Linked DNA regions of Homo sapiens: region 1 is linked to region 2. Evidence: fine-mapped expression QTL. A gene starts in region 2. The other region holds a variant in brackets. All regions are shown on one strand. Distances are between the middles of the regions.

What was found.
Region 1: its variant is fine-mapped to the expression of PYGB in aorta (GTEx, PIP 0.92).

What each region holds. Positions count from the first base shown.
Region 1 is chr20:25,281,869-25,297,242 of GRCh38, forward strand. PYGB (glycogen phosphorylase B) reads left to right here. Exons shown (of 20, transcript NM_002862.4): 12 at 165-279; 13 at 1,308-1,409; 14 at 2,236-2,383; 15 at 6,557-6,615; 16 at 8,613-8,754; 17 at 10,538-10,745; 18 at 12,290-12,424; 19 at 13,736-13,802; 20 at 14,502-15,374. The coding sequence ends at 14,654. It also overlaps a transcript of ABHD12 not described here. Among named protein-coding and RNA genes, the nearest start is that of PYGB, 41 kb to the left of the region's middle. RefSeq lists enhancers at 12,212-12,734, 13,780-14,301. The variant G/C (reference allele first, on the strand shown) is at 6,379.
Region 2 is chr20:25,239,175-25,254,548 of GRCh38, forward strand. PYGB (glycogen phosphorylase B) reads left to right here and starts at 8,911. Exons shown (of 20, transcript NM_002862.4): 1 at 8,911-9,247. The coding sequence starts at 9,005. It overlaps LOC105372579 (a long non-coding RNA gene), which reads right to left and starts at 5,292. Exons shown (of 3, transcript XR_001754564.3): 1 at 1-5,292. RefSeq lists enhancers at 2,645-3,262, 8,945-9,024 and silencers at 7,943-8,196, 8,215-8,294, 8,475-8,664, 8,675-8,864, 9,175-9,554.

The DNA.
Region 1 (15,374 bases), 43 kb after region 2:
CCAGAGCCTGCAGCTGCCGCGGTCACTCTGTTCTCCTTAGAAAACAGAACAGAACCACTGAGCTTGAGGGCTCCTGGGACCTCCTTAAAAGGACTTTAAGGTCTGTTGCTCACCTGGTGCAGGGCACAGCATTTGTGACAGTTCCCTGTTCTCTGTGTTTGCAGCTTTAAGGATTTTTATGAACTGGAGCCAGAGAAGTTCCAGAATAAGACCAATGGCATCACCCCCCGCCGGTGGCTGCTGCTGTGCAACCCGGGGCTGGCCGATACCATCGTGGAGGTGAGTCCCGGGCCCCACCCGTGCCTGTGGAGATGCCTGGGCTGAGAACCGCGGGCCATGTCATCAGCCCCTGCTGAGCGGTTGCTGAGTAGGCAGGAGTCTGTCCCTCACGTGTTGACCTGCAGGCTTCTGGACATGAGGGCTGAGCCCCTGAACATGGGCGCTGAGCTGGGCAGTCACCCATTGGGCCTGGCGGGTCCTGTGTGCGAGTTCAGAAGCCGAGCTTTAGGGAGGGCTGGGGTGTGGCTGAGTGCAGCCACGGGGCCACTGCAAAAGAGTCAAGAGGCAGCTGACTGCCAGCTAGGCTGGGCACCTATTTCCTGTTTGTATGTTGGCTCCTATGCAAGCTCCCTGAGGAAATGAGTGCTGAGGTGTCAGGCCCTGCGCTACAGGCAAGGACCAGCCGCTGGGAGGGTGGGACCGCCCACCTGGGGCTATGGTCAGGGAAGCCTTCCCAGGAAAGCTGAGGTCTGAAGAGGGAATGAAGAGAGAGTGAGCAGTGCTCTGGGGCAAACTGGTTCAATGCCCTGTGCTGGGGGACGGGCCCCTGGGACCTGGAAAGCAGCGTGGCTCCTGTGCAGTCTGAGATGGGCCTGGGTACAGTGAGGAGAGGTGGCCGAGTGTTTGCAGGCAGCACCTGGGTGAGGTGCTGGCTTTGAGGGGACCGCCTGCTTCAGGCAGGGAAGGTGCTGGTGGAGGGCAGCGGGAGGATGGCTTTGGGTTTTGGGTGGTGATGGGATGTTCAATGTCAGAGAACCCTGGGATCGGTGGCTGAGGGAGGGTCGTGTGTTTCCTGTGGACGTTTGAACTGGTGGGACTGGGCCATCTCGCAGAGCCCTCTCAGAAGAGGAAGGAGGGGCTGCTGGGGTAACCCTGTGGCCTGAGAGGTGGGATGCCCGGAGGGGCCGGACAAGCAGATCCCAGGGGAAAGCAGGGGCGTGGGCAACAATGGGAGGAGGGCAGGTGGCTAGGGGGCCCAGCCTCAGGAGGCTGAGGCCCACAGTGAGCGGAACCTTTACGTTCTCCAGAAAATTGGGGAGGAGTTCCTGACTGACCTGAGCCAGCTGAAGAAGCTGCTGCCGCTGGTCAGTGACGAGGTGTTCATCAGGGACGTGGCCAAGGTCAAACAGGTAGGCATGGCCCTGGCCCCAGCCCCGACCCCAGCCCTCCCACAACCAGGCAGGTAGGCCCTGGCCCTAGCCCTCCTACAGGCCCAGCACAGGTCCTGGGGTACCCACTGGGGCTTTAGTGGGGACTCAGAACAGGACTGAGGGTGAGGCTGTTAGGGTTGCCTGAGGTCTCTCCACCCCACTCAGCCTTTCAGATGAGGGCCCCGAGGAGGACAGGTCACATGGCAGATAGGTGAGTGCAGACCCCAGGCCAGCCCTGCCCGTGCCTCGACCCTCTGCCACAGGTCAGTTCTGTATGGAAGCCTCTAGAAGCCGATTCCAGCGTGGTACCCTCTTTGCCCCTGGAGAGCTGTGCAGGTGCACGAGCTGTCTGCACCGGCAGCAGCCTCTCGGCTAGACCAGGGCCAGTCACGGCAGCCTTCAAACCTCAGCGGGCTGGAGGCCCATCTACACAGCCTGTCGAGCTTGGCCTCCTCATAGAGGCCAGAACTAGTTCTCCTTGTAGTCCTTTCAGCCGTCCCGCTCCCGCGCTGCTCCGCCGCCTGCACGCCTGGCTCTGCAGTGTCTTCTGCTTGGCTCCAGGCGTGCTCCTGGGCCGGCTCCTCACTTATCCCCTACTCTTGGTGTGGACCCACCTTCAGCATCCCCCTCTCCCCTTTTCCCATGAGAAGACCCCTGGTGCAATCTCTGCCCCTCAGCTCCAGCCTGTATACCCCTGCCCCCTCCCTGCGGCACTCTTCACAGGGCACTTGAAGCAGGAAGCCGCAGGGTCAGTGGATGGAGTCCTGGTGAAGTCTCCAGCCATCTTTCCCTTTCACCCTCCCAGGAGAACAAGCTCAAGTTCTCGGCCTTCCTGGAGAAGGAGTACAAGGTGAAGATCAACCCCTCCTCCATGTTCGATGTGCATGTGAAGAGGATCCACGAGTACAAGCGGCAGCTGCTCAACTGCCTGCACGTCGTCACCCTGTACAATCGTGAGTGCCGGCATCACCTGCATGACCGCGCTGTGGGGCCCAAGGCTTGCCCTTGCCCGCCAGCTGTGCACAGACCCTGGGCCTCTGTCATGGTGGGGGCTGTGTGTGTATAGGCGTGTGCATGTGTGATGTGGCACGTTTATTTTAAGCAAAAGCCATGTTTTTCTGTGTGCCCCATGCCAGGCCTCACGTGAGCAGGTGAACAGTTAGACACCCGAAAGGCCCAGGCTGGAGTGCAGTGGTGCCATCACGGCTCACTGCAGTCTTGACCTCCAAGGGCCCAGGAAATCCTCCCACCTCAGTCCCCCAAGTAGCTGGGACTACAGGCGCACGCCACTATGCCCTTGTATTTTTTGTAGAGACAGGGTTTCACTATGTTGCCAAGGCTGGTCTCGAACTCCTGGCCTCAAGTGATCTACCCACTTCTGCCTCCCAAAAGGCTGGGGTTATAGGCATGAGCCACTGTACCGGGCCTTCAGTTTTTATTTTAAATTTAGTTATTATCTTTGTGAGACTAATCTTATTTAGAAAGATTATGCTTATTAGAGGCATTTAAAGTATACTTACAAAAATTAAGATAGTATGTGTTAAATTTACACATGCATCTTATATGTCTAAGGACATTTAATTATGAGACAAACATGAAACAGAGACCCCCAAAGGTCAATGTGAATATTTGCTAGGTTTAATAGATAATGAAACCTTAAGGAAAAACTAGGTTTCTAAAATTTTGTAATTTAATAAAGTAGGTATTTTAAAAACCAAAGGAACCACACATCCTCCTTTCCGATACAAAGCTCCTCCCGGGAATAGATCTCCTATTCCCAATGAGTAAGCCTCGATGGGGTGGAGGATCTGGGTGCGTTTGAGACACACATGGTAGGACAGAGGCTAGAGGCCACCCCCGCTGAGGACCCCTCTGCCGTGTGGGCACCACGGGAGGTGCTTCCCGGGGCTGTGGCTTCCCGGCTCCGAGATGGTGCACGGGAACTTTGCATCATCTTTCCTTGCCCCATTTTCCTCCTGCAGTTGTGATGCTCTGTGTTCCCCTGGTGGTGACCCGGAGTCCTCCGCTTGCACAACGCTTGGTCCTATTGATGAGCGGCAGTGAGACTCGCGGGTCACCCCCTCCCTTCCTCCCGCTCCACCACCCCCACAGTCAGTTGCTGCATCGTCTTTTAGTGTTGGCCTTCAGGCTTTCCTCCTCCCGCTCCGCCACCCCCAGTCGTCAGTTGTTGCATCGTCTTCTATTGTTGGCCTTCAGGCTTTCCAGATGCTCCACTTCTGCTTGGTTGGTTCATTCGTTTTGAACGACACGCTGTGATTTCCAGCCGTTCACAGGAGGCAGCCAACAGGCTGGTGCTCGCTCCCACTGGTCTTCCCCCTTGCTCCATGTCTGTGTGTGCACGCATAAATGTATATGTGTGCATGCCTGTAAACATGTGTGCTTGTGTCTGTGCATGTACCTGTGGTGGACCTGCGTCTCCTTCCCCCACTGTCAGAGCTCACAGCATCAATACTTTGCCCTTCCTCCTGTCCCCAGCTGTATCAGTTTGAGTCTGGTGGTGAGTATGTTCACTGCTTCTCACGGTCCTTCTGCAAAGTGCTGCCCAGCCCTGCTGGCCACTTTGTGTCTAGTTCATGACTGGCTCATGGGAACAACCTTCCCGAGTTCTTGCTTGTTCAAAACGGCCTGGACCCTTCACCATGAAGGTCGGTTTGGCTGAAGATGCCAGTCTTAACTCCACTTCCTTCCCCCAGTGCTTTTTAGGGCCCTACCGGGCACTGTCTGGAGGGTGGGTGTGTGTGCAGAAGTCTGGCGATGTCTGAGTTCTCGATCTCATCAGTGACTCACTGTCATTGCCGTGTCTTGGTGTTGGCCGTTACAGGGCATTTTCGCCAATACTCCGGGTGCTTGTTGAACGTGTTGCTGGACTTCAGGGAAGTTGTCTGTTTGAAACGTGTGTTTGGTTCTGTTTGGTTTTCTGCTTCTGGGCTGCAGTGTGGCGTGAGGTGGCTTTCTCTGGCCTTCTTCCTTGGTGCCTACTTCTCTCAGGACTTGGTTTGTCCTTGTCCTGTGGAGTGGCACTGCTCTCTGGAGTCTCTGCCGGCTGCACTCTCCTCCCGTGCCCTCTGCTCCTCTCCTCTGCTCTCTGCCCCCCTCCCTGAGGACTTGGCATTTGGCTCCATGTCTTTCCAAGTTGGTGGTCACCAAGGGTATGTGATTTGCGAAGGGGTTCACTCCCCTCCTGTGGCCTGTGGCGGGGCTGGGTGCTGACTTCCATTGCTACGTTGGTGTGAGCTGGATCACCTGGGGCTATTCGGAATAGGCTTCTCAGCCCTCCAAGGCAGCTCCTCTGCTGGGCCAAGGCCATGCTTCCCCAGCCTGTGGCTGCGCCTCTGCTGTCTCTCCGGGTCTCACCTGGGCGGGAGGCTCCTCTGGAGGCCAGGACCTGCCTTGTGAGGGTGCCCTTGTGGGAGAGGCGCTTGCCCAAACCTGCTGTTCCCCGGGGGCTCCTTGGTGGCCCCCAGGACTGGAGCTCTCTGCCCAGAGTGCCCCTCCCCAGAGGTTAGGACTCCCATGACCCTGTCCCCTGCCCACTGTGACCTGGGGTTTGCATGGTTTCCTTCTTTCCTAGTTGTGGTGAAATCATCACTTGTGTGTTTCGTTTTTCCTGTTCTCTGCTGATTTCCAGAAGTGACAAGATCCAGCATTTAAGGGGCAGCTGCATTCCTCCTGGAGCCTGGGGCTGGGTGGTACACATCAGCCCGACTCCCTGCTGCCTCACCCAGGCCCGGCTCGCTGGTGAACGCCTGTCCAGGGTGGCCGCTCATCCCCTTTTTGTAGGAACCTCCCGTGAAATCTGCAAACAAATGACCTGGCGAGGACAGCCTGTTTGCTGGGCTGGCAGTGAGCCGGCCGTCATGGCTTGACCCTCCATCCACTTCTGTGAAGAACTTTGGGGGCCCTCACCCGCTGTCCCAGTGAGGCAGAGGGGAGACACAAGGTCTCACCCAGCGCCCCTGCAGGCTGATGGCACCACAGCCACAAGGCTGAGGTTGCCACTTTTTCTTTGTGTCATCCAAACAATGTGTTTAAAACACAATTTAAGGCCAGTGTGGTGGCTCACCCCTGTAATCCCAGTGATTTGGGAGGCTGAGGCCTGATGACTGTTTGATGCCAGGAGTTTGAGACTGGTCTGGGCAAAAAAGTGAAACCCCATCTGTACTAAAAGTGAAAAAATTAGCTGCATGTGGTAACCTGTCGGTGCCTGTAGTCGCATCTACTTGGGAGGCTAAGGAGGGGAAGATCACTTGAGTCCAGGAGTCTGTGGCTGCTGTGAACCCGGATTACACCACAGTACTCCAGCCTGGGTGGCAGAGCTAAACCTTAACTCTTAAAAACAAAAACAAACAACAACAAAAAAAACCCAAGAGTGGTAGAGTGCGAGGCGCGGTAGCTCACGCCTATAATCCCTGCACTTTGGGAGGCTGAGGCGGAAGGGTTGCTTGAGCGTGGGAGTTTGAAACCAGCCTGGGCAATGTAGAGAAACCCTCATCTCTACAAAAAATTAAAAAATTAGCTGGGCGCAGTGGCACGTGCCTAGGATCCCAGCTACTCAGGAGGCTGAGGTGGGAGGATTGCTTGAACCTGGAAGGTAGAGGCTGCAGTGAGCTACGCTTACACCACCGCACTCCAGCCTGGGCGACAGAGTGAGCTGCTGTCTCAAGAAACAAAACCAAACAAAACCCACAAGTGTGCCCTTCATGTACAGGGGCCTTGAACACTGGTGACCAGACCCAAGGAGGCTCCTGTGTTGGGCTTTTCTGGAAACTGAGGTGCAGCTTTTCCTCTGAGCCCCGGGGAATAGCATCTTTGCTCGAGTCAGCTGCTGGGTTCGTCCATGGTCCTGGCTGGCCTTCCTCACCAGCGGGGAACCTAAGTGCAGACCTCAGGGTGGCCTCACTCCCTTGTAAGTGGCAGGTTCCTGGTG[G/C]GTGGGCAGGTGGGTGGCCAGTGGCCCTGTGCCACTGTCACCCGTGTCTCTGGGGCTTGAAGTACATGGCGGAGCGTGCCTGTCCTGCCTCAGGGTCGGCCTCTGATGCTGCTGGGCCCCAGCAGGGGCTCGTCCGGCTCGCGGTGCCTTGTGTGAGTCTCTTCCGTGTGTCCTGCAGGAATCAAGAGAGACCCGGCCAAGGCTTTTGTGCCCAGGACTGTTATGATTGGGGGCAAGGTGAGTGACTTCCTCTGCAGTCCTCTCTGTGGTGTTTGGTCTGGGGATAGTGGGTGGGCAGCCTGCACGCTTCTCATGGTGCCACCACATCCATACTCGGGAACCGGATGCCCAGCGGTCACCGGCCCCTCTGGTATGCCTGTGGGGGTGGGGACCCTGTAGAGAGTCAGAATGGGATGGAAGCCTCCTGCCTGCCCAGCTCACTGGAGGGGTCCCCAGCCTAGAGGGCCAGTCCCCAGTGGGCTTGCTGGTGCCCACCTCAGAGAGGGCAGTGTCCTTTCTCTTTGTGCCCAGTGGGCACAGGGCGTTGTGGCTGCTTCATCACCTGCACATGCCCTGAGCATTGCCTGGTTTCAGTTCACTTTATTTACTATGACACATACTTTCAGAGTCCTAGATGTGCTGTCATCGAGTCCCAGGTCACATCGTCACACTCATCAGCCCTCTGCGGCCAGTGTCCCCACCTCCTGCCATGTTTCCCTAGTAGCTTGGTCTTTATCCAGAACTGTGAGGCTGCTGTGGGGTGCAGCGTCCTTAGGAGGGTCCTGCTGGAGCAGTGGCCCTAAGTGAGTCTGGACTGTGTGAGGCACCCCAGCCCTCCACGGCAAGGCCGGGGCCTGGGGGTGCTGGTGCCTGTGTGCAGCCTGAAGGCTGCCCTCTTGCTGCCTTCAGCGAGTGGGAAGCTGGTCAGAGGGGTGGGCACTCCTCTGGGCTCCGCCACCTCCTGGCACACCCCATTTGGTCTCTGTCCACTCCTGTCACCTGCTGTTTTTGAAGCAAATTTTGGAATTGTGTCATTTTATTTGTCAGTATTTCAGTATGTAAAGTCCATAGAGATACGGAGTTCGAAAAAGTTTTAAATGTTATTATGAAAATTTTAGGCTGGGCACGGTGTCTCACGTCTGTAATCCCAGCACTTTGGGAGCCAAGGCGGGTGGATCGCATGAGCCCAGGAGTTCGAGACCAGCCTGAGCAGTGTGGTGAAACCCCATCTCTACAAAAAAGTGCAAAAATTAGCTGGGCGTGGTGGTTCATGTCTGTAGTCCCAGTTACTTGGGAGGCTGAGTAGGAGGATCGATTGTCCTGGGTGATTGAGGCTATAGTGAGCTGTGATTGCACTACTGCACTCCAGTGTGGGCAGCAGAGCCAGACCCTGTCTCAGCAAAAAAAAGAAAAAAAAAAGAAGGAAACATTTGAACCTGGAGAAAAGCAGGAAGAATTGTAGCAAAACCATAAACCTGTCACCCAGACTAGCTGAAGCATTTCACAGTAAACTGCAGACACTCTAGCTCTTCACTCTTACATACGTCAGCATTCCTTTTCATAAAATGATGTTTTCCACCAGAACCACAATGGGAGTAGACTGAAACATCACCACACAGTACCACCATCCGTCACACCTAAAGCATTGGACAGGAGTCCTCCGTGTCCTGAAATGTTCACTCGGGTACTTCATGGGTCCCCTGCCCAGTTGTCTTTGTAAAGTAACAGACATTTCTAAAAGTTGGTCTGAGTGAGGGCCCAGTGAGTCCTCACCTTGGACTGGCCGTGGTGTCTCAGTTCTCTGTAGGTTTTCCCCACAGTCTGTCTGTTACAGACATCGGGTTGTCTGTCCGCCGTAGCCTGGCTCTTTCCGAATGTGTCCCTCCAGTGTGTCCCAGTATGTCCCTAGGGACAGTTCTCTGTTTCCTGTCAGTCGGCAGCTCTAGAAATCCTGGTCTCTTTTACCTTGTAATTTCTGAAAACCTAACAACAACCAGAAAACCAGACTTGAGGCGGACACGTTTCTGGATGTGGCGAGGTGGCCACCATCGTGAGTGCGCAGCAGAGCTGGGGCCTTGGGGCCGGGGAGCCTCCCTAGCTCCTCTACTGACCGTCCCGACGGCAGGTTCCTGTGGCTCTAGCCTCACCCCCCTACAGACCCCAGGAACCAGGAGCGCCTCCAAGGGCCTGAACAAGGCATTTTTGTGCTAAAAACCTTCACCCTCTCCTTCCAGGCAGCGCCCGGTTACCACATGGCCAAGCTGATCATCAAGTTGGTCACCTCCATCGGCGACGTCGTCAATCATGACCCAGTTGTGGGTGACAGGTTGAAAGTGATCTTCCTGGAGAACTACCGTGTGTCCTTGGCTGAGAAAGGTAACCCTGGAAGCCTGTGTTGGACAGAAAACTCACTCCTGCCGGGGAACGGGCGTTGTACTGGCCCCGGGCCTTTCATCCTCAGCCAGTTCAGCTCTGCCTGGACACCCAGACCTAGCCAGCCGGGCTGCAGGCGAGCAGGGAACGGCTTTAGGGAGTGCTCCCCGTGCAGTGCGGAGGACTCACAGTGCGTCCCGGGGCGCCTTGCATGTCACAGGCAGTGTCATCCCCCAACAGGGCACCCTTACTGCCGCGCCTGCCTGGCCTGCCCTCTGTATCCTCCCTCCCCTGCCCTCTCCTCCTGCCCCTCAGCCGTGCCTTCTGCCCTGGGCCCCTCTGCTGGCAGGACCTGCCTGGCCTGCCCTCTGTACCCTCCCTCCCCTGCCCTCTCCTCCTGCCCCTCAGCCGTGTCTTCTGCCCTGGGCCCCTCTGCTGGCAGGACATGCACCAGGCCAGTGGGGTTGTGGGCCCCCAGCTTCCCCCAACTCCACTGCCCCTCCTCCGCCCACATCCTTGCTCCTCACTGCCTGCCTGCTCTTGGGCCCACCAGTGATCTCAGGTGGCAGCACCTGCCTCATCTGTGCTTCCTGAGGGCAGCCTGGGCCAGTCCTGGGGAGACCCTGGGATGTGCTGCCATGTGCCCTGGAGCCCATCAGTTCCCACCCCTGTGGGCTCTACTGGGCAGGAAAGTGATTTGCCCACCAGATGGTGGGAGATCTGAGCCTGGCCTTCTCGTGCTCCCCTCCTGCCGCCGAGGGCCAAGGGCCCCCCCTAGTTCAGGCCGCCTGGGCTTCCCAGGCTGCCGCAGGTGAGAGGGCTGATCTGCTGTTGTTCTGCAAGCTCCGTGGTGCAGGGGGGGATCCCTGGGCACCGTCCCTGTGGCCTGGCTGCTGCCTTGGTGTCCATGTCGCTCCCCCTCTTTAGTGGTGCCTGGCAGGCGAGGTCCCTTGAGGCACTCACGGGCCGGCTTGCCTCCGGCTTGGCCAGGAACTGTGGCTCGTCCTTCCCTGCTCCTCTGACCGAAGCATCTCCTCTCCCCCGTGCTGCCTGAGGCTCCCCTCCTCCTATGTGTTTTGGGGCCAGCTGACTCCTGCTCATCTTTAGAGCAGGCCTTCAGGCACCTGGTCTGGAGTCTCGGTGCTGGCGTCAGGGCCCCGTTCTCCCCGGCAGTGTTGCTGTGGCTGACTGGGCTGCAGCCTGAGGTGAGGGTGGAGAGCAGGTTGTATAGTCAGTGTGTGCACTCACAGCGTGTCTGGGAGCGGTGACCAGTCCTGAGGGACAGGCACAGAGAAAGCGCAGGGCCGTGGCATCTGGCAGCTGCTGGCGCCCAGGAGGTCGCCACCCCTCAGCCGCTCCAGCCTTCTGGCTCTATTCTGGTCTACATTCCTCCTGAAAGGATCCAGGGAGCCGCTGGGGCTGATCAAGGTCGCGGTGATCCAGGGAACGACATTGTCAGCGAGCCAGGACTGGCTCCTTGGCTAGGCCTGGTTTTGGGGAAGGTTTTGGTGCACAGATCCTATGCCACCTGGCTCCTGAGGAGCCCCCATCTTGGACCTTCTGCCTCAAGGATGCCCCAGTCACGAAGGGGAGCCCTGCAGAGGCGGGTGGCCGTGTCCAGCCTGGGCCCCTGTGGGAGCGGGAGTGGGGGCTGGAGCGGGGCCACAGCATTGGTCCCTCCACGACCCAGCCCCGGGTGGATGGGCCGGCTTGTCCTGCAGTGAGCCTTGCGGCTGAGGACATTGGGGTCCTCACAGTGATCCCCTCCACGGGCTCCCCTCCACAGTGATCCCGGCCGCTGATCTGTCGCAGCAGATCTCCACTGCAGGCACCGAGGCCTCAGGCACAGGCAACATGAAGTTCATGCTCAACGGGGCCCTCACCATCGGCACCATGGACGGCGCCAACGTGGAGATGGCCGAGGAGGCCGGGGCCGAGAACCTCTTCATCTTCGGCCTGCGGGTGGAGGATGTCGAGGCCTTGGACCGGAAAGGGTGCGAGCCTGTGCCCCTGGGCACCTGGCACCGTGAGGATGGAGAATGAAGGGTGTTGGGCTGGGGGCATTGGCTGGACTGGGCTCTTGGGGCCAGGCCACTGTGTGCTAGGGTCAGTGCCCACCCAGGGCTGTGTGCCTGCCTGCAGGGGTGACCATTTCCAGGTGCATGGAATGGACGGGGTCCGGGCTGCGGGCGAGGCCCACGTGGGGGTGCTGGGCTGCTCCTGTCTCGGCTCTGAGGCTGAATCTGCGGAGTCCAGACCAGGGGCTCCTCCTCCAGGAAAGGCCTTTTCCCCTGGGGAGGGTCTCCTAGAGGGACACCCCCTGGGCACAGGCAGCCCCACAGAAATGGGCTGGGGCTGGGCAGGACCCCACTGCCAGGGGCGCTCTGCCGGGAGCACTCTGCTGATTTGGGGCTTGCCTGCTGTTGAGGTTCCCTGGTCTAAGTTGTAACTGTTAAAATTGTTTAAAAATAGTATTTTGGAAACATTTTAAATGTGTAGGCCAGGGTCGGGGGGGGTGGGGGAGTGGGGGGGATGGGGGGGTTGGGGGGTGGCAGAGGGGAGGAGGGAATCCTGAAGACAGCACCCAGAGCTTCATCCACCTTATCCCCGCGCCCCTCCGTTGGCTGCACTGAGCTCAGAGCACTGGCCCTCCTGCAGCCCACACTCCATTCCAACTCCACCGGGGTTCTGTTACTGTCTTTCCCATCCCAGGATCCCATCAGGGCACTCCACTGTGTGTGGCCGTCAGGTCTCCCCAGTGTCATTTGGTCTGTGACAGCTTCTCAGTTTTTCCTTGTTCTTCATGATCTGGACGTCATGAGGAATCCAGCACGGGCCTGATTCCAAGCGATAATTACAAAGAAAAGGCAGTGTTGCCTGATTGCCTTGAAGCACTGGGGAGCCTGTGAGGCCTTAAGTAGGGTCAGGTGAAACCACACATGCCATCTGAAGTCAGAGCTGTGCCTTGCTGGCCCGAGCACAGAGGCCTGTGCTCCCTTTCTGCGCCCTCACACAGCTTCTTCTGCCCGGGCCCCGTCCTGGGATGCCCATGTCTGCCCGTCCGTCCCTCTCCCACTTAGCTCTGCCTTGTCCTGTCTGGTCTTGCTTGCGTTTTTCCTTTTCCATCTTCGAGGTCCCAGCCAAGGTGCTCCATTTCACTTCCTGCCCCTCCGGCCGTCTGTTTTTCAAAAGCTCTGCCCAGGATTTCACAGTGAGCCAAGTTCTGAGTGGCCCTCTCCACTAGGAATGTGGCATCAGCCACTATGTCCTAGCAGATCTGCTAGTGATGACATTTCTTTAACAGTCAAAGGAGCAGGTGGGATTGGCTTTAGACTGACTTCACATCTCTGCTCGAGCAGGTCCCTGCTCAAGGGCCTCGTAACCACCCATGGCCACTGGCTGCTGCCCTGGACCGTGCAGGCCTTGAGCTCCCAGGGCCATCCTGGGGCAGGGGCTGTGCCAGGCACCAACATGGCTTGTTCTCCAAGGTGGCCCACCTGGGGCGCTGGCTGCTGACTCCTGGCCCATCGCCTCACAGGTACAATGCCAGGGAGTACTACGACCACCTGCCCGAGCTGAAGCAGGCCGTGGACCAGATCAGCAGTGGCTTTTTTTCTCCCAAGGAGCCAGACTGCTTCAAGGACATCGTGAACATGCTGATGCACCATGACAGGTGGGACCGACTTCCCTGGTTGGGTGGCTGGGAGGGAGGGAGGGAGGGAGGGGTCCTCTTCGTGGGTTGGATATTCCACCTTGTTTGGAGAGCAAAACCCGTGCTTTCAGGACGTCTTCTCCACTGTGCCCATGAGACCTTACTGGGCAGAGCCTTAGACCCCAGCTGGGAGTTTGCGATGGCCTCTGGCAATGCCAGGGGGCCCTGGGCAGCGAGACACAGCAGCACAGTCCAGCCCCCAGGCCTTGTGGACCAATGTGCTGAGCAGGAGGGGGTGTCCTCTGCTGGTTGGAGGTCCCAGGGGCAGCCGTGTCCCAGCAGGCCAGTAGAGGGAGCATGGGCCCAAAACTCCCTGGGGTGGGGTAGGGGGCGCACAAGGGCTGCGGAACCGCGGCAGGCGTCAGTGCCAGTGACAGGCAGTGGTGAAAATGGATTTCACTTGCAACGATGTGACATTATAATGTAGTTAGTGTTTTATTTCAGTGCAGTTAGCACATGGTATGGTTTATCTAGAGTTACAGACTTTGTAAGGTTTGCAGCTCAGGGCAGTTCTTCACCGTTGGCAAAAGTTGAATCCGGCGAGGGCTGGGAATTCACCTGCCCTCCACTTTCAGCTGCCTTTGGGTTAGTTTTAGTTTTGTCTGCTGCTCTTCGATGACCGTGTCACCTGTTGGCTTCAGTCACACCAGCTCTGACCACATGCTGGGATCTGGGCTGGAACCTGGGCCCTGCTGAGGTCTGTGATAAAGGAAGTGCTTTTAAAATTGTGAACTCTGCATTTCGTGAAGTGTGCTTCTGACTCGATAGTGAACAGAAATGCATTTGTAGATTCATAAATCTGGCATTTTTGTTCAGCACATCAGGAACTGCAAGTCAGTATTTCCTGTGTAGGCAAATCCCAGTTAGACTTAAGACGGCAAATGGAGATGCCGTTCCCCAGCAAGTGCCCCCTGCCCTGAGGCGGCGCCATGGGCTCTCCACTGTCTGCCCAGGAGGCCTCTCCCATGTGCAGCTCTAACTGCCCTGCGTGTGGAAGACACGTTTTAAATGCCAGTTTATTTAAAGGAGTGTTGGGTTGAAATAAGGTTTTTCTAAAATATTGTCCCAGGACATAAGTGTTGCTCACAGAGAAGCCCTGTGGCCAAATGGGCCTGGTGCAGCCTGGCTCTGACCAGCTGCGTGGGTGGGCCCCTTCGCTCCAGACAGGACCAGGTGGATGGTGCCTGGCCTCCTGCCCTGGGACTCTCCCCTCGGGACAGTGTGGGCAGGGCTCCCTGCTGCCCTGGCCCAGCCTCCTTTCTCCCATTCCAGGTTCAAGGTGTTTGCAGACTATGAAGCCTACATGCAGTGCCAGGCACAGGTGGACCAGCTGTACCGGGTGAGGCTCCTGGGTCCAGAGGCTAGGGGAGCAGCTGGGTGGGTCCATGTAGACGTGTTGGGTCAGATTGTTTATTTCCCAAGCTGAGTAGATTCTTGGCCTGGGCCAGAGGGGTTTGTGATTCTGATCTGTCATCAGTCGGCTGTGCCTGCCTTTAGGGAAGCTGTCACTGTCAATGTCACTCCCTCCGTTGAAAAAAACAGCTCCTAATGGCCAAGAAAGGAATGTGCGGCCTGGAAACTGAGTGACGGGCAGGGCCCTGGGAGGGACCTTCTCTTCCCTCAGTCAGGGCTGGCCTCGAGGAAAGGCTGGCCTGGTGTGACCTGCAGCTTGTGGCAGCTGTGAGGCTCCCTGGTGGAAGGAGACTGCCTGGGCATGTCCCCTGGCACTGGATCTGCCTGGGCAGTTCTTACCTGGTGCTATCCCTATCGTCGTCCTGGGGGCCATGCCCTAGCAGGAATTTTCGAGGCTGGGACCTTCTCTCCAGCTCCTTGCTCCCTAGATCTAGAATGCGGTAGCTTTCCTGGTCCGTGGGGTCCCCTTTTCAACGAACAAGTGATTGTAATGTCCTCCTCTTCCAGCGGATGGCCCCAAGGCTCGGAGCTCATTTGGAAACAGTCCTAAAGTTCTGGAATCCCATGTTTTTAGCAGCCCCAAGCCCTGTGACGCCAGAGACTAATTTCATCTCCTTCCCTGCAGAACCCCAAGGAGTGGACCAAGAAGGTCATCAGGAACATCGCCTGCTCGGGCAAGTTCTCCAGTGACCGGACCATCACGGAGTATGCACGGGAGATCTGGGGTGTGGAGCCCTCCGACCTGCAGATCCCGCCCCCCAACATCCCCCGGGACTAGGCACACCCTGCCTTGGCGGGACCAGCGGGCATTTGTTTTCTTGCTGACTTTGCACCTCCTTTTTTCCCCAAACACTTTGCCAGCCACTGGTGGTCCCTGCTTTTCTGAGTACCATGTTTCCAGGAGGGGCCATGGGGGTCAGGGTGGTTTTGAGAGAGCAGGGTAAGGAAGGAATGTGCTAGAAGTGCTCCTAGTTTCTTGTAAAGGAAGCCAGAGTTGACAGTACAAAGGGTCGTGGCCAGCCCTGCAGCTTCAGCACCTGCCCCACCCAGAGTGGGAGTCAGGTGGAGCCACCTGCTGGGCTCCCCCAGAACTTTGCACACATCTTGCTATGTATTAGCCGATGTCTTTAGTGTTGAGCCTCTGGATTCTGGGGTCTGGGCCAGTGGCCATAGTGAAGCCTGGGAATGAGTGTTACTGCAGCATCTGGGCTGCCAGCCACAGGGAAGGGCCAAGCCCCATGTAGCCCCAGTCATCCTGCCCAGCCCTGCCTCCTGGCCATGCCGGGAGGGGTCGGATCCTCTAGGCATCGCCTTCACAGCCCCCTGCCCCCTGCCCTCTGTCCTGGCTCTGCACCTGGTATATGGGTCATGGACCCAGATGGGGCTTTCCCTTTGTAGCCATCCAATGGGCATTGTGTGGGTGCTTGGAACCCGGGATGACTGAGGGGGACACTGGAGTGGGTGCTTGTGTCTGCTGTCTCAGAGGCCTTGGTCAGGA
Region 2 (15,374 bases):
ACACTTTTAAACAACCAGATTTCGTGAAAACTCACTATCTTAAGAACAGCATCAAGGAGATGGTGCTAAACCATTCATGAGAAATCCACCCCATCATCGAGTCACTTCTCACCAGGCCCTACCTCCAAAACAACTCAACATAATCACAATTCACCACGAGGTTTAGGTGGGAACACAGACCCAAACCGTATCAGAGGTCTTTGTGTTTTGTGCGGATGTGAAGCTCAGTGCCTGGCTGGCAGTAGGTGCAGTGCAGATGGAGCCAGTGTGTGATGAATGAAGGAAGGGTCCTTTGCTGGTGGGGTCCGGGTCTCACCAACCTGGTGTCCCCTCGGGGCCTAACGGGTGGGAAGTGGCCAGATGGAGGACTCCTCCTGGGTTGTCTGAGAACACTGGGCCGGCGCACTTCGGTGGCCCAGAGGCAGTTCCTAGGTACACTTGCTTTCCAGCGCCATTTCCACAGGTGCTGTGCTCATCCTTCTCACTTTAATTCAGGCTAGCTGGAGAGAGCCAGGCTTTCTCAGTGTGAACTTAACCTGTCCTCTGGAGAGGCCGGACATTTTAACAGCCAGGCCTGTGGGTGCACTGGAACCTTCCACTCAGTGCTATGCTGGCAGGTTTGTGTTGGCCAGATGGGTGGGAGGACCCCTGAGCGTCTAAGTGACGATTTCATCCCGGGCCTGATACAGACTGAGCAGGAAGTGGTGGGGTGCAGACATGCATATCGGTGGCTCAGCCTGGCCTTCTGAGCCCTGCCTCTTGGATGAAACCACCCACCTGGTCACTCTGGGGCAGCGAGGAGTGCAGCCCAGTGCTCAGCTCCACAGTGACCACTACAGCTCCCAGGGTGGGCCCGTTTAACATATACCCTCTCCCCCAAAGTCAGGACATGTTTCTGACTTGTAAGACAGAAGGGTGGTGGCCCTAGGCTGTGACCAGCTTGCTATCTCTTTAGCATGCTAACCTGTCCCTTACTAACTCCTGTCAGGGGAGGGCTGGGGCAGGGTACCAGGCCCACTCTCGTCCCAGCTCTGGGACTCATCTCGCAGTCATTCAGTAGCGGTGGTTAGGCCTAGCTCACAGATGCCTTGAGGCCCCCCCAAGAGTCCCTGTGCCCCCATCCACATACTGGGGAAGTCCTGCTAGAACCGGGCCACTGGGTTAGAAAGGCAGCCCACCCTATGGCAGAGATTCCCACATTGCACAGTAAAAATATGCCCTAGAGATGGCCGAGCGCAGTGGCTCGTGCCTGTAATCCTAGCACTTTGGGAGGCCAAGGTGGGTGGATCACCTGAGGTTGGGAGTTCAAGACCAGCCTGACCAACATGGTGAAACTCCATCTCTACTAAAAATACAAAAATTAGGTGGGTGCCTGTAATCCCAGCTGCTCAGGAGGCTGAGGCACGAGAATCGCTTGAACCTGGGAGGTGGAGGTTGCAGTGAGCCGAGATCCTGCCATTGCACTCCAGCCTGGGCAACAAGAGCAAAACTCCGTCTCAAAAAAAAAAAAAAAAAAAAGTGCTCTGGAGGTGCTCACTAAGCAGGTGGAATTCTGGGTTTGGGGCTTTGGGAATGTGCTAGTCACAAGCCCTGTGGAGAGTTTTTATTTGCAAGTTTGGGAAACTGCCTCAAGTATTATCTGCACTTCTATAAACTGTGTCCTAGAAGCCTGTACTATGTTATTATGTAATGTAATATACTACATATGTTAGTGTATAATATACTGCGTTATGTTATAGCAGAGTAAGTGATGTTTGTCCTTCTTGGTGCACTGAATCAGACTCATAGTGTGGGTTTGTCCCCTGGGTGGCAATGCTAAGTTGTGTCACTTCATGAGGCTGGAGTCTGCCATAACTCTCCATTGCAAATCCCTTTTCCCTTTTATAGCTAATAAAGATAATGTGTAGGGTGAGGCTTTGAGATGGAATGAATCCCCTGTTCCCCTGTGGCCGTTGTCCAGTAGTTCTCAGAATCTCCTCCTGCATTGATTTGGCATCCTGTAGAGAGGAGCGGCTTCCTTCTTCCCTATCTCCATTTCATTTCTTCTCAGTATCACTCTGGTCTCATAGATTGTGGGGAAAAGAAAGAGAGATCAGATTGTTACTGTGTCTGTGTAGAAAGAAGTAGACATAGGAGACTCCATTTTGTTCTGTACTAAGAAAAATTCTTCTGCCTTGAGATGCTGTTAATCTATAACCTTACCCCCAACCCTATGCTCTCTGAAACATGTGCTGTGTCAACTCAGGGTTAAATGGATTAAGGGCTGTGTAAGATGTGCTTTGTTAAACAGATGCTTGAAGGCAGCATGCTCATTAAGAGTCATCACCACTCCCTAATCTCAAGTACCCAGGGACACAAACACTGCGGAAGGCCGCCGCAGGGACGTCCACCTAGGAAAGTCAGGTATTGTCCAAAGTTTCTCCCCATGTGATAGTCTGAAATATGGCCTCGTGGGAAGGGAAAGACCTGACCGTCCCCCAGCCCGACGCCCATAAAGGGTCTGTGCTGAGGAGGATTAGTAAAAGAGGAAGGAATGCTTCTTTGCAGTTGAGACAAGAGGAAGGCATCTGTCTCCTGCCCCTCCCTGGGCAATGGAATGTCTCGGTATAAAACCCGATTGTATGTTCCATCTACTGAGATGGGGTAAACTGCCTTAGGGCTGGAGGTGGGACATGCGGGCAACAATACTGCTCTGTAAGACATTGAGATGTTTATGTGTATGCATATCTAAAGCACAGCACTTAATTCTTTACCTTGTCTATGATGCAGAGACCTTTGTTCATGTGTTTATCTGCTGACCTTCTCTCCACTATTATCCTGTGACCCTGCCACATCCCCCTCTCCGAGAAACACCCAATAATGATCAATAAATACTAAGGGAACTCAGAGGCTGGCAGGATCCTCCATATGCTGAACGCTGGTCCCCTGGGCCCCCTTATTTCTTTCTCTATACTTTGTCTCTGTGTCTTTTTCTTTTCCAAGTCTCTCGTTCCACCTAACGAGAAATACCCACAGGTGTGGAGGGGCAACCCAGCCCTTCAATAGATTCTTTTTCCTTTAATGTCAGTGTGTTAAAATCATTAATGTCACTAAGAATATCTGTTGACACACCCCAGTGGAGGGAGGGCATCAGTTCCACAGTGTCATTCCAGCTGGTGGGCTCTTTATTCCCTCGAGCTTTATAATTACCAGCCTCTCAAAAATAATGCATTTGTTATTTATCTCTGTTTCCTGAAAGCCTGGGTCTGTGTTCATTTGCAAACACGAAATTGACCAGCACAGATCTGCCAGTGGCGTTGCTGGGATCCCAGAGAGATTTTCCCTCCGCACCTGCGGTCTCAAGGGCCGGCGGTGCTTCTGAGTCACTCATTTCACCAGCGATCAATGAGACACTCTTCAGGTCCTCAAGAAGCTTAAGCCTAGCCGACCAAAAATGTCTGTTTTCCACACCCCGCTTCTAAGTCCCACAGCATCTTCTTCCATTCACAAGACATCTTTCATCTCTTTTTCTGAGGCAGATGACAGGGGACTTGCTACAGACAGAATCTTAAATACCTATTTAAAGAACTTCAGGCTGGGCACAGTGGCTCATGCCTGTAATCCCAACACTTTAGGGAGACCGAGTTGGGTGGATGGCTTGAGCCTATGAGTTCAAGACCAGCCTAGGCAACATAGAGAAAGCTCATCTCTATAATAAATACAAAAATTAGCTGGGCGTGGTGGCATGCACCTGTAGTTCCAACTACTTGGGAGGCTGGGGTGGGAGGATAACCTGAGCCTGGGAGATCGAGGCTGCAGTGAGCCGTGATCACACCATGGCATTCCAGCCTGGGCAACACCATGAAACCCTGTCTCAAAAACAAAAAGATAAAAGAACTTTAAAGGTAATGTATTATCTCCAGCAACACAGAATAGCTCCCTACAACAGTAACGAAACCAGAACCAGCATCCATCCCTTCTTAGTGATTTTTTAAAAATTACCTCCCAAAAGGAGAAGACAGAGACGTAGAGGACAGTCTAAAACAGGGATTCCCTGATGCTGAGGTTAGCAGATGCTCTGGCCTGATCACTGCTCTGATCCAGGCTGCCAGAACAATCCTTTCTCTTAGAAGGGCAAAACTGCTTTTCAGCTTTATATAAAATAAAAGCATAGCCCAATTTCTTTCCATTTTGCCTGTTCTGAAGCCTGGCAGTTTTGTTGCTAAAATGGAAGATGAAGCTGAATCCAACTCTTGGTTATTTACAGAAGGAAAAAAATCTTTTCCCCAGCCCATGTTAGGGTCTCCAGCTAGGGGGCCTCTAATTACACCAGCCAAAGACAATTCAATCAGGCAAGAAAAAAACAAGTTTATTGGCATGTGCATTGCACTTACATGTGGCAGTACCTGGCAATGAATAACCCAAAGTGTGGTCAGGACTTGGGTTCATCTATCATCTTAGGCTGACATAAAGGAAAAGGCCTGGAGCTTCTGGGCAGGGGAGGCATGTAGTGGGAAGGTGTCTTGGTCTATTTGTGCTGCTGTAACAGAATGCCACAGACTGTGTAATTTATAAAGAAAAGTGGCTTATCTGGCTCATGGTTCTGAAGACTGGGAAGTCCAAGAGCATGGCATTGGCATCTGGTGAGGGCCTTTATGCTACATTGTCCCATGGAAGGAGGGTGGAAGTACAAGAGAGGGTGAAAGAGACAGAACAAGAGAGGGTCAAACTCATTTTTATAACAACCCACTCCCACAATGGCATTAATCTATCCTTGAGGGTGGAGGCCTCATGGCCTAATCACCTCTGAACAGTCCTACCTCTTATACAATGGCAATTAAATTTCAACATGAGTTTTGGAGGGTATATTCAAACCTCAGCAGAAGGTGCCCAGGAAAAGTATGGTAAACAAGGGTTGTTTAGGAAGGTTTGTTATGCAGACTTAAGTCAGTACTTTCTTCCACTGATAAGAGTTGTTACAAGATATCCTCTTCCTTGCATGGAAGAGGGAGACGTGGAAATTTCCTTTATAATAAATGTGAATTTTTTTTACAAAATGAAAATGGTTTTTAGAGCCTTTCCTGTGGTCTGCTGGTTCTTAATGGCCTTTAATTCAAAATAATCCACATGCGAAGAGGCATATTTTGGGGTGGTGTATCCCAATGCCCCTCAGATGCCTCTTTTGTGAACTGTCCAAGTGGATGCCCACCTCAGGACCTTTGCATTTGCTATTCCCCCAGATTCATTCATGCCTTTTTTTTTTTTTAGATGGAGTCTTGCCCTGTCGCCCAGACTGCAATCTCGGCTCACTGCAACCTCCACCTCCGGGTTCAAGCGATTCTCATACCTCAGACTCCCAAGTGCTGGGATTACAGGCATGCGCCACCACGCCCAGCTAACTTTTGTATTTTTGGTAGAGACGGGGTTTCATCATGTTGGCCAGGCCGGTCTTGAACTCGTGACTTCAAGTGATCCACCCACCCTGGCCTCCCAAAGTGCTGAGATTACAGGTGTGAGCCACTGCACCTGGTCCATTCTTTCATTTTTTTTTTTTAGTCTCAGCTGAGATATCACCTCCTGTAACTAACAGCTCAACCTGCTTTTCTTTACAACACTTAAAACTATCTAAAAATTATTTATTTGAAAATGATGGCCAGGTGCGGTGGCTTACGCCTGTAATCCCAGCACTTTGGGGGGCTGAGGCGGGCGGATCACCTGAGGTCAGGAGTTAAAGACCAGCCCAGAAACATGGTGAAATCCTGTCTCCACTAAAAATACAAAAATTAGCTGGGCATGGTAGTGAGTGCCTATAATCCCAGCTACATGGGAGGCTGAGGCAGGAGAATTGCTTGAACCCAGGAGGCGGAGGTTGCAGTGAGCGGAGATTGCACCACTGCACTCCAGCCTGGGTGACAGAGCAAGACTCCATCTCAAAAACATTAATAATAAATAAATAAATAAATTACCTGAAAATGGCTGAGATAATTAATACTGGGACTCATTTAGCCACTTCAGCAATATTAGCGGCCAGAGGAGGTGAGGAGACATGATGGTGAGAGGGCTCCTTCCTGCGTCAACCATGCGCATTATGAAGAGTCACATCATGAAGATTCAGTATTGGACTAAGTGCTGCAGGAGAGGGGAAGGACCATGGCAGCTCCCAGGAAGAGGAAATGACATCTGGGTAAGATAACTGTTAAAGAAAAAAAATAATCAATAGCATTTGTTAAAGCATGGTACCAGACTTTATTCACAACCATCATGATAGGTACAGGGACCACTGCAACGGGATCTTGCAGCAGGGGAGAGAGATTGGGCTCAACTCCGAAAACAGCATGGGCAAGTGGGCATTTATAGCCAAGGACTGGGGGAGGGGTCAGTGGATGGACAGTTACTAAGAGGACACTTCAGGGGTCCAGGTGATTGTGTCTAAACCACCTCATAGGATTCCTGTTGAAGGCAGGCCAGGGTGATTGGACAGCATGGGGGATGGTGGAGCATGGGGAGCCTGATCAGATGTCACCAAGGGGGATCAGACATCAGGGGCAGGGAATCCTGCTAAATTGACAAAGCAGGGATTGCTAAAACAGATGTCACAGGGAAGTGTATGATGGCCCTACAAGGCTCAGAAGCCTGACTAGAGTTTGGTCAAAGAATTTTTGTCAGGATCATGGAAAATTTAATAAAGTGTAGCTATGAAAGAAAGGACTTAAAATTTATTTAACCAGAGTAACAAAGAATTAAAAGTCAATCCAGTAAGAGAATATATAGGCCTTAAATCAGCATCCATTAGTGAAGTCTGTGGCCTCTAGTTTTTCTTACTAAAACTTACTCCACTTACAAAAGAAATATTGTGGAAAAAACAGGAAATACAAAATGTATGGAGAAAATAAGATAACCCCCCTGATAATTCTTCCATTCAGAAATAACCAGTGTTTAGGTTTGGATATACACCTGTGTTTCTAACACAGTAGTCCCTAGCCACATGTGGTTATTTAATTTAAATTTAAATTGACTAAATGAAAGTAATATTCAAATCATTACTGTCATTTCTGCATTACATCCTTATTTTTGTGTTTCATTTATCAGTATTGTGTCATCAATCACACCTTCCTAGCTAGCTATTAAAACAGTCATTCCTTTTAGCAGCACAATGGTTTATGATATTAACTTTGAGCACAGATACATTTTTCTGGGCTTGTGCAGTGGAGCAGGGCTTGGCTGGGGTGAACCTTGGCTGTTTCCCTTATTAGCTGTGTGGGCTTAGGGAAGAGTTAACTTCTCTGTGGCTCACCTTCTCCATTGTCAAGCGGGGGTAATAGCAGGCTATTTGCAGGGATCAGGAGTTAATACGTGTACACTGCAAGTAATGATCAATAAGTGTCAGCGCCTCCATTCTTTGCCAGGTGTGCACCACAGCTGGGGGATTAAACTTTACCACACCACAGCAGATAACATATTTGCATAACTTGCTTTTTGTCTTCTTAAGCTTTCCTTGAACTCAATTCCCCAGAGTGGTAGAAGTGGTCATAGGGCACTATCATTTTTATGACTTCTGAATTGCCAGATCACCCTCAGAGAGATTGCATCAGTGTTCGGAGCTTGCAGCCAAGCTCGACCCCACAGCCCTGCCATCTGTGCCCGAAGTTCGATCTTGTTGGCTCCAGAATCCCTAGGACATAGTGCAGGAGTGAATCCCGAGCTGGAGCTGGGTGGGCTGTGGGGTCATTCCAGATTGATTAACCTCCGACCTCTGAAGTCTGCAGCTGGAAGGGGCTCCAGGTAAGAAGATAACTTTGAAGCATCACACCAGGAAACCTACTGCACCTGGACTTTCATGACATTTCCTGCGGGCAATTTTTACCTCCACGAAATTCAGTAACCTTTGCAGCCCCTTCAGCCCAAGACCACCAGGAGCAAACCTGTGGTCCACAAAATCGGGTGTACTGACCCACTGCAATGAGGGAGCGCCTCCCAAGAACGAAGGGAAAGGCAGAGTTTGAAGGGGTTGAGGGAAGGCAGAGTTTAGGTGACCTTTACATGAAGCAGGGTTCCCACAGGCTGAGGCCAGCAGGACTGTGTTCCGCGGGGCCAAGTGTGGGAAGCTGTGTGCAGACGCCCCCTATCTGGAGCTGCAGCCTGGATTGGGATGACAGAGGCTAAGTCTCGGTTAGTGGCTGAGCTCCCCGGCCAGACGGGCATGTTTCCTTCTCCCTGCTGTAATCTCAAAGCGGACAGCGTCTGCCAGGTGGTTTCGGGAACAGGGTTTCTCCGAGGGCTAGGGGGCTGCGGTCCCTCCGAGGCGGGGTCGTGGTGGCATTTGGCTGTGGCTGCCTCGCGCCCTCGGGAACGGGCGTCTCCAGCTCGCTGGCAGCTGGTTTTCTCCACGTCTGTCATCGGCCTGGAGTGGCAAGCAAATAGCTGGTATTTTCAGAGCCGCCCTGCCCCGGACAGAGAAGACCGGGCCCAGCAGGCGTTGGTGGATGCCTTTCAAGCTGTAATCAGTTTCCCCGAACGTGTACCAGGTCTCGGCCACAGCCCGAGCCCAGCGCGCTCCCGCGGGGCACCTGGTGACCCGGTGCAGGGCGGGAGGGCCGGTCCCAGGAACCCGAGGGCCGGAGGGCAGGGCCCCCTTCCCGCACCGTCCCCGGGCTGGCAGGAGCGGCCACGACGGCACGCTCCGAGGCCCCGGGTCCCTTGCCCCCTCCAGTCGCTCCCACTTTCTGCCGGGCTTGCCCAACGAGGGGGCAAACACCACGCTCAGGTGGCGTGGACAGGTCGCTGCCGCCTCGGACTACACCAGAGATCTCAGCTATGAGCCTGGACGCCCGCCCCGCCCTCCCGAGGCCCCGCCCCGCCCCCCGAGGCCCCGCCCCGGCGCGGCGCGCAGGCGCGGTCCATCCCGCCCGCAGAGCCGCAGTGCCGGGCGCCAGAGCAGCGGCGCCAGAGCAGCTGCACCATCCCGGCGTTCGCGTGTGCCGCCGCTTTCCTCCTCCATCTCTTTTCCTCCGCCTCCGCCGGCGCGATGGCGAAGCCGCTGACGGACAGCGAGAAGCGGAAGCAGATCAGCGTGCGCGGCCTGGCGGGGCTAGGCGACGTGGCCGAGGTGCGGAAGAGCTTCAACCGGCACTTGCACTTCACGCTGGTCAAGGACCGCAATGTGGCCACGCCCCGCGACTACTTCTTCGCGCTGGCGCACACGGTGCGCGACCACCTCGTGGGCCGCTGGATCCGCACGCAGCAGCACTACTACGAGCGCGACCCCAAGGTGAGGCGCTGCCCCGCCCTGTGCGCCCGTGCCCGCTGAGAGGGCGCCGGTCCCGGAGCCGCGCCAGCGGGGGTCTCTGCGGGGCGGCCCGTCGGGCGTTACCTGCGCCCCTAGCCGGCCGGCGGCCAGGCACAGCCGACTGGGGAGTCGCCTGGAAGCCGCAGTCGGCGGGGCCCGGGCGTCCCCTGCGCAGGGCCGCGGCCACGGGTCCGCCCCACTGGGAGCCCGCGCCTGGCGGGGTCCGCCGTCCCCCGCAGATGATGCTGAGCCCGGGAGCCTGGCGGACGTTCCCGGTCTCTTTCTGGCCGTGCGCTTCCGCGCTGGCTGCAGAGCCGGTGCTCCCCGCCCCTGCCTCCAGCCACTCTTTGTTTTCCTGCAGCAGCCTGTGGGAGAAAATGGGACTGGAACCAGGCCTGGGCAGCCTTGTGGGTTGGAATGGGGTGAGCTCGGTAATCTGCAGGGAATTGTGAGACTTTTTTTTGTGTACGCTGCTTAGAAGAAAATCACTGAAGATGCCTGCTTCACGCAGGGAGGGGTACGAAGCTCAGAGATGGAGATGGAGCCCTCGAAGAAGGCTCTGTCTTAGAGGTTCCCACACCTCCCTTGGAGAAATTTGCTTGGGTTGAAGTTGACAGAGATCATCTTACTAATTGTTACTTTTTATATCTTGCAAAAATTTGTTTGAGTAGTGAAACAAAGTCACTGATTGTCCCCGTTACTCTTAACCATGTTTACTATGGGCCTGTGTTCTTGCTGTGTTTTTGGTATTCCTAAATATACATACACATTTTTAAAAAGTATAATGCACATACAGTTTTTTAGATTTTCTGTTTCATTCGTAAACATTTGTAACTTTTTCACTGATAAACAGCTTTGCAGGTCAATGGATAGGATGGTAGTTTTCAGTTTGATAGGTACATGGTAGTCTTGCACAGCCCCCTGTTGCCAGTTTTTTGTTGTTGTCGTTTGCTTTTAAACTCTTGACCATGGAGAATTGTCTTTCTACTACACTAACGTAGAGGGAGAACTGGTGAGGAAAAGACACACTTCCAGACCTGAAGCCACTTGGCAAAGATTTTACTTGCAGTGTACATCTAGGCAGTGAGCACTTGCTTTATGGATGGTATTTTAGAATATTTTTGTAGGGCATTAAGATATGTTTAATACGGTAATTGCTAAGAGATTGACTGCTTTTCCAAACTTATTCTGGGACATTCTTTTTTCTAAAATGGAGATGGTAAAAGGGACAGATTTGTTAGAATACCAACTGGGGCTCTTCATATTTGGTATGCAAAACATAGAAGTGGCAACGAATGGCCAAAACAGGTTATAACAAGGGCTTGGGATGACTTTGCCAGGAAAAGCAGCCAAGAAGCAGTGGCTCCCCCAGAATTCCCTGCTGTTGGGAGAGTTCTGATGCACAGCACCATTTTTTTTTTTTTTTTAATTCTGAGTCTTGCCCTGTAGCGTGAAGCTAGAGTGCAGTGGCGCGATCTCGGCTCAGTGCAACCTCCGCCTCCCGGGTTCAAGCAATTCTCCTGCCTTAGCCTCCCAAGTAGCTGGGATTACAGGCGCCTACCACCACGCCCGGCTAATTTTTTGTATCTTTAGTAGAGACGGGGTTTCACCATGTTGGCCAGGCTGGTCTCAAACTCCTGACCTCGTGATCCGCCCGCCTCGGCCTCCCAAAGTGCAGGAGTTACAGGCGTGAGCCAACGCACCCGACCCGCAACATCATTTTTATTGTCTAAGTGGCGGATGGCAAGGACATAGCTCTGCCTTCACATTCAAGGGCATTTCCTTGGAGCTGGACCAGGACTCAGCTCTACACCTTAGGGTGCCCATTGGAGTATTTATGTATAATCACATCCTGGAGAGGCCAGCGATGGGCTCAGGGATTACGGAAATGACCTTCATGAACAAGATAGTCCCTGCAACAAAACAGGTTTTTTGATCCTCCGTGAGATCTCTTTTGATTGTCTACGTGTGGTGGCTCTGGGTGGAAACCTTTCTCTTAAACCGCACAGTCTGTAAGTCGTAAAGTTGTAAACTTTTAGATCTCACAGTGTGTAAATAAGCTGTGTGCCTATTCTGAATAGGAAGGACATGGAAAATTGGGATTTAACTGCTTCTTTCGCTAATTCATGATGAAAATAAGCTTGCAATCCTTTCTTTGGAAAAGTTACATGCTTGCTGGTGATGGACCAGCAACCAGTCCCACCAGAGCCAATGAGAGGAGGTGTGCTCCCAAGAAAATAACTGCTGTGCCTCCCCCTCAGCCAGAAATGACCTCAGACATTCACCGGCACACTGCAGACTGTGGTAATGTGACACTCTAGAGCTCCTAAATAGAACGCTTTTATTGTTATTTTTGTCTTTTTTTAAATTATGCAAGTCCTGAAGGAAAAATTATTACTGGAGGAAAAATTAGAAAATATAGATAAGCCAGAAGGAAAAAAATTAACTGTAATCCTGTAACCCACTTCTATCGCCCACTTTGTGCTGTAAATATTTTGTGTTCTACATTGTTTTTTCCGTATTGGCAGAAACTTGTTTTTAATACATAAAATAACATTATACTGAACCTATTGTTTCATAACTCTTAGCACTTTATTTGTGGTACATAGCGAAAGAGTAGAAGTTGGGGTGTTCAGAGGAAGATTTGTCAAGCTTTGCCATGCTTGGCAAATCAGCACGTCAAAACATCTGGCTAACATGGAGAGCTTTGTGCTTGGCAAGAGGTGGCGGTTGGTCATGAAGACATTTAATGGATTCTCTGAAGTGGTGGCAAGGTGGCAAGGAGAGTCCAACCTGAAGCTGCAGAGCCTGGGATTGCGCTGCATGGAGAAGAAAGGGTGTGCGTGATTCCACGCTCCTTTTCATCCTGGCCTTTCCATTCGGTCTGTGCAACTGTGGGCTTGGGCGGATTTCTTTGCCATTATTGGCCTCAGTTTTCTCATCTTTAAAATGAGGGGAATCAAGCTGGTGATGTTTCCGAAGTCTGTTGCCATTCTGAAATGTTAGAGTTAAAATGTTTCTATTTCATATTGAATTGACATTCCATCTCTATCCAGAGAGAATTTGAGGATGCTTATGCTAGATACAGCACAAAAGGTTCACATTAGAAGGCCTCAGAGTGAGGGTTGGGGTGGGACAGTGAGGGTCAGGACACAAAACACAGACCAGGATCCTGGCAGTGAAAGCAGCCCATGCCCAGTTATGAGAGTCACGGGATCCCTTCTATAACATCCTGAAAGGACAGTTGCACGGTTTATTCTGTGGGCCTTTGTGAAGCTGTGTTGTCGATGTGCTGAGCCACTGACCTGCAGCACCCCTGCAGTGGATGTAACAATCAGTTTTTGAGACTCTTCCCATAAGCTCCTGGCATGACTACAACACAGATTAAGGAAAAGCAGCTCTACCTTGGGGCCCACACTGCTGTCCTAAATATTCCTAATGAGATAAACACAATGAAATACGATTAATCTTTTGGTTTGGCTGGACCCAGGAGTTAAAGAAGATGATCTAGAGAAGTGTTTTGCAGACCCTTCTGCTCTGTGATCCCCACTTCTGGGATTTGTTTTAATTAGTCAGTTGTGGTACCAGCCTCCGGAATCCTAACACTCCCAATTTTTCTGATGTATTTCCACTTTTATGTGTGAAGTTGAGCTTGCATCTCCTGGGCAGGCTTCCCTGACAGCAGATCGCTCAAAGTCATTTTCTCTGACCAGTAGCTGATGGTGGGTGCTGTTTTGTGTTGCTGACAGCTAGCCACTTGGAAGGTAGGCCTCAGCTGTCATTTTAGCAGATGGAGAAGCCTACAGTGTGTGCCTTCATTTTCTGCAGAAGACAGCCTGGCCTCTGCCCTTGCAGGCTGTGGTGGCTGGTTTTATGTGTCAACTTGGCTGTTGTGCCTAGATAGTAACGTGGATGTCCCTCTGGGGGGGTCGGGGGGTGGTGTTTCCCACACTGACTGAGCATCTTACAATTCAGTTCCGTTCTGATGCTGTCTACCTAGATGTAGCCTCGGATCCCACAGGCTAAAGGCTCAGTCCCACAAGACTTCTCCACCCCAGATGTCAGTTGCACATCAGGACCTCCCTTCTGACCTCTGACCGACAGCCTCCTCAGGTTTGATGATTTGCCAGAATGGCTCATGAAACTCAGGGAAACACTTCACTTGCGTTTACCAATTACTTACAAGGAATACAACCCAGGAACAGCCAGATAGAAGATATGCAGAGGGCAGGTCTGAGGGAGGGTGCAGGGGCTTCCATTCCCTCTGCAGGTGCCACTGTCCCAGCACCTCCAGGATTCACTGAACTGGAAGGAAGCTCTTCCATCCCCTTCAGTTGGGGATTTTATGGAGGCCGCAGTTACCTAGTGTGATTATTGGCCATTGGTGATGAGCTCAGCCTTTAGCCCCTCTCCCTTCACTGGAGGTTGGGGCTGGCGGGAGGGGTGGGCCTGAAACTTCCAACCCTCTAATTAGAGCTGGTTCCCCTGGCAGCCAGCCTCTGCCCTGAGGGGCTTGCCAAAAGTCACCTTTTGGTGACCACATCAGGCGTGGTTGAAAGGGACTTGTTATGAATAACAAAAGACACTTCTTTCATTTTTATTGCTCTTATCACTTAGGAAATTACAAGGGTGTTAGGAGCACAGGCCAGGAAGAACAAATAAGTATATCTCATTACATCACAGTTTCACAGCCTCCCATGGGGGAAGGCCTTGCAGAACAAACCCTGCCACCAGCTACCTTGCACCAGAGCTGCAGCTTGCCTGGGTCTCCAGCCTGCTGGCCCACCCCACTCTGTAGGTTGTGGCCTTGCACTTCAGAATCACTTGAGCCAATTTCTTAAATCTGTCTCTCTCTACACATACCTTACTGTTCTGTGTCTCTGGAGAACCCTGACTAATCCACAGGGGCCGTGGTGGCTTTATAAAATATGGCCGGGCGTGGTGACTCACACCTGTAATCCCAGCACTTTGGGAGGCTGAGGCAGGTGGATCACCTGAGGTCAAAAGTTCGAGACCAGCCTGACCAATATGGTGAAACCTGGTCTCTATTAAAAATACAAAAATTAGCCGGGCGTGGTGGTGGACATCTGCAGTCCCAGCTATTCGGGAGGCTGAGACAGGAGAATTGCTTGAACCAGGGAGCCAAGACTGCGCCATTGCACTCCAGCCTGGGCAACTCTGCCTAAATAAAATAAAATAAAATAAAATAAAATAAAATAAGGTAACCGACCTCACCTCCACATCTCAGCCATATTTCCTTTTAAACTTTATGTGATTTCAGACCCTTAAAAAGTTGCAAGAATAATACAGAGATTTCTTGTAATTCCTGTTGACGCTTCATCCGGATTCCCCAGATGTTAAACATTGCAACACACTTGTTAGGTCATTTTGTCGCTGTAAGTTCATTTTTCTCCGAATCATTTGAAAGTAAGAACCAGCCTGACCAACAAGGTGAAACCCCTTCTTTACTAAAAATACAAAAATTAGCCAGGCATGGTGGTGGGCGCCTGTAGTCCCAGGTACTTGGGGGACTGAGGCAGGAGGATTGCTTGAACCTGGGAGGAGCAGGTTGCAGTGAGCTGAGATCACGCCACTGCATTCCAGCCTGGGCAACGGAGCGAGACTCTGTCTCAAAAAAAAAAAAAAAAACTGAGTCATAGCCTTGTTGCCCCTTCACCCCCAAAAACGGCAGTGAGTACTCCGGAAAAACAGGGAAGCTCTCCTACACACCCACAGTAGAGCAGTTAAACTCTGGACATTTTAATCAACACAGTGCTGTTGTCTGCAAATCTTTTCAGTGTCACCAGCTGTCCTGCTTAATAAATACAAATAAAATGCAATAATACAATTGTAAAAAATACAAATAAATAATTGGGAGAACTTTAGAAGTCTTTTCAGATTATATCTTTTATTATTATTATTATTAAACGGATCAAAGCTTTAAGCCATTTGGAAATTCAAAGCATCCTAAGACATGCAGCAAATAACCGCAGGAGATAGGAGCTGGCTTTTTCTCACCCATGCAGAATGGCATTCTTAGGATACGGTGAAGGGAAGAGAAGTGAACACAGATTTAGAAAGGTAATTGGACAGTAAGAGAAGTTCGGTT